Regions from separate parts of the Homo sapiens genome. Here region 2 is reported to be linked to region 1. Evidence: microRNA targets listed by miRTarBase, many of them from high-throughput screens and not tested one by one. Region 1 holds a microRNA gene; the other region holds the end of a gene's coding sequence.

Region 1 (3,083 bases):
AGGGAGACACCTGCATTTTCTAGCCGTGACCTGTGATTGTTTAGTCTCCAGTTATCCCCAACTACAGCTGATCTAGTATTGAATATGATCTTTTTGTCAGACAAAAAGCAAACCCTTTAAAAACCCCTTCCAGAACCCAAAATATCTCTTGCCAAAAGCTGTGAGAGCAGGACAAGAGCTCCTCCTATGCTGCTTACTACATCCTCTTAAACTGTTTATGAACTAGACAGTATCTAGGACACTGAGAATCAAGTGGAGGCACCTAGGTTTGTGTTGTTAGGACAAGGCACAACTGTTCTCAAATCACTGGAATGGAAGAAGGCATATCTAAGGCTCTTCTGCATTATGAAGACTCATTCTGCCAATGGAGGTCAAGCCAGCAAGGAAATGATTATGCTTGGTTTAAAGAAATGGGTGAAAAGATAATGACATTTCAATGGGCAGGAACTTTCAACTCAATAGCTTTAGTGGGGCAGAAGTCAGGCCTCAACTACCTCCTACCTTCAAATAATCTTTACTTGCTTCTCTGAAGAACAAGCGAAACTCTCAAGTATCTTTGAGAAGTCAGGGCCTTGGACTCACAATTCAGTATTTCTGACTAGTTCCTTTTCCCAGCAGTGGGAGGTTGCCCCAAGTGGCAGAACAATGCTTTAATGACTGGATCAATCCAGAATGGGGCACTTGCTCAACTTTAGCAGTGGCCTCCCCAACTACAGGGCTTGCTCTTGGAATCTTTCCAGAAGCTGAGACTGACGAACAGTGCCAGAGAAGAGCAGCATCACATCCTAGGGCCATCTCTACAGTGTTGTGCAACCAGCCCTGACTGGAAAAAAGTACATTCGCTTTAGTAGCAAGAGTGAACTGCTGCCTCCTTCAGAAAGGGTGGGTTTTGGAGAGTAGGCGTTTTAAAGGACTTTAGGAGGTGCCAGCCAATTTGAAGCCTGGGAAAACTTCATGTCTACAGAGGATTAAAAATGCTATCTTAGAATTTCAGGCCAGCTTTCAGCAATCTCAACCTTTCAAAGGCCAGGCAGCAGCTGTCCCGAATACGATGCCAATCAATGCCTCGAACACCTACAAAGAACTAAATCCAAGCAACAAGAAGCTGTTTCAGCTAGACACACTTTAAAATCAGATGGATCATAGCATTTTGAGTCTGGCTAAGATGGAATAAGGAGCTGTATGACACCCCGAGAGACCCAGAAGCACTGAGGAATTTGGAGGAACTGACAGGATGTGACCCTTCTCTCCAGCCAGTGTATTCAGCAGGCAGCCCACAGAAAACAAGGAGTTAGCACAATGAGAGTGAGCAAGGCCTGATTTCATCACAGAGCTCACAATCTTGTTTTAAAGGGGGCTTCTGATAGACAAAAGGAGAAAACAATTTCAACAAGGAAAGCAGGTGTATGATACTCTTTGTTCTGAAGGAAGATAAATGGCCTGAGTTCTTGTTGTGACTTCTGAGAGAGGAGGGAAGGACCCCCAAGAGGAGGAATTGAGCCTGTGGGCACAAACCTGCAATGTTTCAAAGCCGGTGCGTAGCTGGGGACGACCGTGGCAGCCTGCCGCTGTAAACATCCGACTGAAAGCTCCTCTGAACACCTTACAGCTTCCAGTCAAGGATGTTTACAGTAGCAAAGACTGCCCAGAAAGAACGGAGACGCAGTGAGGCACACCCTACTCTAGTAAGGAGGTGACAGAGGGCTTGCTAATCCAAAGGCCCTCATGCAGGGTCAGAATTACAAATGTTCATTAGGATGCCCACTTCTCCTAGACTTTCTCTGACTGGTTATTAATACAGGCTGGGATGGGGAGAATGGCTGTCACTGAATGACTGCTTCTAAGGATAATATACTATGAAATAATTCATTAAAAATAAAGTTTTATATAACAAAGCAAGCAGAACAAGGCACAGCTTTGCTCCTGTGAGATTCTGCCACAATTTCCCAAGTGGCACCTAGTGAATCATGCAATCTGCATGCTTAAAACAATGAGCTCTAAAGGACAGAGGTCTATTACAATCACAATTAAGAGCTATATGCACCCAAGGTGCTGAAAAAACAACTAGTGTGACCTTTGGAGAGGGGCAGGCAGAAGAGACGGGAAGGCAGACGTTCATATTCTTTCTTGTGATTGCTTGCAAAACAGCTCAAGTGGTGGTTCTCAAATCTGACTGCACATTAAAAGCATCCAGGGAGTTTTAAAAGGTACTGATGCCTGGGCTCCATCATGAGATTCTGATTCAGCTGATGTGGGTTAGAGCCTGGGCGCTGATATTTTTAAAACCCCAACAGGTGATTCTAGTGTGCAGTCAGGGTACTATATAAAGATATAATGAACCACAATATAGAGGAAGAGAAAACATAGTCCATTCACTCCAAATGCCACTGTGCACATAGAGAAGCTGTTTCTTAAAAATCTAAAATCTATAACTTTCTGGGAATATTCTCCTATCCCAGATGAAGAGCTCTGATAGACTTCCTAAGATAACTTGAAATGAGCTTAACTTTACCATTTGTAACTAAAGTCTTTCATTTTCATTTTGTCTATTTTCACTGAAATACCACTTCGGAGGCACTGAGTTAAAAGTATCCAGAAATGAGTAACAGAAGGAGATGTTAAGAATGAATCTGGTCTAGAAACGAGAAGCAAAAGGAATAGCAAATGACTTGTGCTGAGAGAGAAGGAGCGTATCTGACACCAGTATACAAAGCGCTCTTCAGTCAGCAGCAACTGCAATCCCTTCACAGCTCACCTGACGCTTTGGAGGTTTCAGTTCATCTCTTGGAACAATATCGATGAGAAAATCAAACTGATCAAATTTTGTAATTGCCATGGCGATATCATTTCTCTGTAACAAAGAAGAGCGGTGTGAAAAATTAGCCTGGGGAGAAACTAGTTCACTTGGCTTTATACCCTCCAAGTAAGGTAAGACGACTTTTAAGCCAAACTAAACACCTACGGGCAAGTCTACAGCTGAAATAAGCACAGCCAAACTCATATACTTTAAATGATCAGACCTGGTGGGCAACCATCAACAAAAAAGAAAGAGATACATGTAACTCACACTGTAAAATGGGGTA
Region 2 (3,083 bases), not on the chromosome of region 1:
TTCAGAATCTAAACACTTTACTCCTCTCAGGATGGCATATATCCCTATATGCCTTGTCAGCCACTGGTATAGAGGGCATAGCAGTTTGGAATCCAATAGCAACAACTTTTTGTGCAAAGTTTGGCATTTAGAATCATGCCTCATTAATTCAAAAACATTACTAAGGGCCTACCATGCATTAAGCACTATGTATACAGGTAAATTTTTAAAATATGGAGTTTACCAACAATAAAGAAAATAATTACAAAGCAGTGTGATCAGTGCGACAACATGGGAGGGGAAGAGTAAAGGACCAGAACAAAGGAGCATCTAATTTGACTGAAAAGGGCTTTAAAAAGCCTATGAAAACAGAATCACTGAAGCTGAGTCCTAAGAGGTAGGTAGGTATTCACTTGGTCACAAAGAAGGATGCAGAAGTAATGATGTGTGCAAGGCTACTGAGGTGGAAAACACACAAAGCGCATTTAGGGAAGAAGTGGAAGTACTTGCAATTGATCAGGATGCTCTAAAAAGAGGGATAGTCTGTGGTTCTAAAAACCGTATTAAAAATAATTTAAATCTTTATACTTAGAAAGCACAAAGGTATTTTCATAAGAAAACTTGCTAAAATGCTAAGTTAAATAAAAATCTTAGCTGTGTAATGATAAACAAGGGGGCTGGGGCAGGAACTGAGAAATTCCCTTTGCCACAGAGGCTCTATATCAGAATTTGTATGTTTACCAAAAGCAGCCTGGATTTTAACTGTTTGAGCAACACTGGACTAGAACATGATTACACAGGATGACTGCAGAGACATGGCTGGGAAGGTAGTCATTCTGTGTTGCCCTGATCTGCGGAAAATCCCAAAAAGAGAAAACTTACAAAGCAGAAAGGATTTTATATAACAGATGAGGACTTGACGTTTGGAAACACTGAGCTTAAAATTACTGTGGGATGTCTAATGAAGATATTTGATAGACAGTTAGAAACAAGGTTTAGAAAGCAAGAGATAAGTCAGGATACAAGTTACAGGTTTGAGACTCAGTCTGTTATTACAGGTGGTAAAAGAAGCCATAGTTATGAATGACATTGTATAAAATATGTAAAGTAAAAAAAAAAAAGAGAGAGAGAGAAAAAAATATAGTGAAGATCAATACCTAAAAGGTAGGCAGAAAGTGAGACAACACTTTGTGGGGAAATGAGAGAGACAGCGAAGATGAAACCAACATGTAGCACAGAGTCGCCTTTGATAGGAAGCAGGCAACCTCTTTTCCTCTAAAATGGGAAAATGAGTAAAGTTGGTAAATACAAGTTGACCTCTTCATAGTCTCAATTTTCTGTTCAATAGGAGAAAGAGCCATATGCTAGGGGAGGGGCAGAGGGCCTAAGGAAAGTAATGAAGTTTGGCTCAGCCACAGCGGGAAATGGGAGAGAGGCCACCCTAGTAACAAACATAAGGTTTACATTGAGGGCTTTTCTAAGGCTGAAGTGAGACACTTGTAGTGATTCTACTTTGAAGGACTACCCATCACAAAGAACTCAGCATCCCCGAAAAGGTAGATAATAAATAGGATTAATCTGAGGTTGAGGGCTTGCCAAAGGACTAGACTAAAAGACCAGGGAAAGAAGAATAACTGGTGAGATTAGTTCATATAGTATCCCATAAAGCTGAGGGTGGATAGGGAAGAAAGCCTGAAAGGGGCTGACAGTTTAGGAGGAAGGGGAGCAGTCAAGAAAAGGGGGTAAGAAGGAACTGAAGAATGTGGAATGAGCATAAAGGAGAGAAAAGTCAATAAAATAAGGAAGTGAAAAAACTGAAAAGAGGGCAGTTATCAGTTACTGAAATTTTACCAGAAAGAGAAACTCAAGGTGGTGACATTCAAAGTGCGGCCACGGGAGTAAGCTGCTGGAATGTAATAAAGTCACTGGGCAGAAGTCCAAGGTATCAGCAAGGTATCAGAAAGATCATCCAAAGATGACAACAGGAGTTGAGGTAGACAGAAAGACCATGAGCAAGATATCAAGTTAGGCTCTCTGGCCTTTAACACTCACCCCTATTATTAAAGGCAAAAAACATTAAAATTTCAGTATGTTATGAAAAGATGTGCTACAAAAACATATGAACTAATGGTAGACTAACCTAGCTTGGTTTTTATCTTCATTACTCACTTGAAAAGCCATGCATTGTCTTTTAAACAAAATAGAAAAATAATTTTTAAATTTTTATAAAATGCCTAAGGGAAGTAGAAATTTTAAATACAATTAGTAATACATGGCAAAATAATTAAACACAATGATTCCTTTGTGAGATCTTTCATTATTTACCTTATTGAAAATGGAATCTGAATATTAGTCATAATCTTTCATTTTGCCTACATTTATATCCATAGTATGTATTCAAAGCAGTGAAGTAACTTGACTTTAATTTCTGAAGCATGGCAAACTTCAAGGTAGTGAGATTTAAAAATAATCTAAAGATGATAAAAATGGTAAACTTGTGTTACATATACCACAATAAAAAAAAAAAGTAATAGAAAAAATCTTTGTAAAGCTAAATTGGGTTACTACTCATTATTAGTGACATAACATCTGTATTTTAAGGTGAGTTTGAACAACACTTTAGAAATTAAAGAATCATCCCTTCATAGGTTTACTAATATATAATGAAAAAGATGGTGATGTTGTTTTAGTAGGGTACCCAAGCTGGATATCTTTATGCAGTGTAATGTTCTCATATTCAGTATCAACAGGTCTTCTTTTTTGGAACTCTCTTTTCCATTTCATGGGTTTTGTTGTTTTTCTATTTGAAAAGGACTAGATGAACTTACTAGTTACAGCGATGATGAAAGAAGTTTAAAATTTGTTTTGCATTCGTTGTATTCCATTCTTGTTCTTTCAGGGGTCCTTCACACACAGATACATACTTTTTCAAGATTTTTTCTCCTACTTCTCGGAAATCCAAGGGTTCCTTGTATGTAGTGCAGCCCGCTCCAGACACACTAGTATCCACTTCATGATTTTCTGGTTGCTGATCAGCACAATACTTCGATCCCCAGTAACACATTTCTCCACTGTACATCATAGCCAGCAGATGAATGTCACTA

The links. The annotated mature microRNA hsa-miR-30e-3p reads CUUUCAGUCGGAUGUUUACAGC and lies in region 1 at 1,568-1,589, opposite strand. An mRNA with a match to its seed (bases 2 to 7 or 8) in the 3' UTR can be bound and repressed. Matches are read on the target gene's strand: a 7mer-m8 pairs with bases 2 to 8, a 7mer-A1 pairs with bases 2 to 7 and ends in A, and an 8mer does both.
Region 2: miRTarBase lists RIMOC1 as a target of hsa-miR-30e-3p. Seed matches in the 3' UTR shown: 7mer-m8 at 2,062-2,068.

Annotation. Positions count from the first base shown.
Region 1 is chr1:40,752,919-40,756,001 of GRCh38, reverse strand. It overlaps MIR30E (microRNA 30e), which reads right to left and starts at 1,647; the gene lies at 1,556-1,647. NFYC (nuclear transcription factor Y subunit gamma) reads right to left here. Exons shown (of 10, transcript NM_014223.5): 5 at 2,756-2,851.
Region 2 is chr5:41,917,023-41,920,105 of GRCh38, reverse strand. It overlaps RIMOC1 (RAB7A interacting MON1-CCZ1 complex subunit 1), which reads right to left. Exons shown (of 6, transcript NM_175921.6): 6 at 1-3,083. The coding sequence ends at 2,807. Among named protein-coding and RNA genes, the nearest start is that of FBXO4, 6.7 kb to the left of the region's middle. RefSeq lists an enhancer at 1,600-1,759.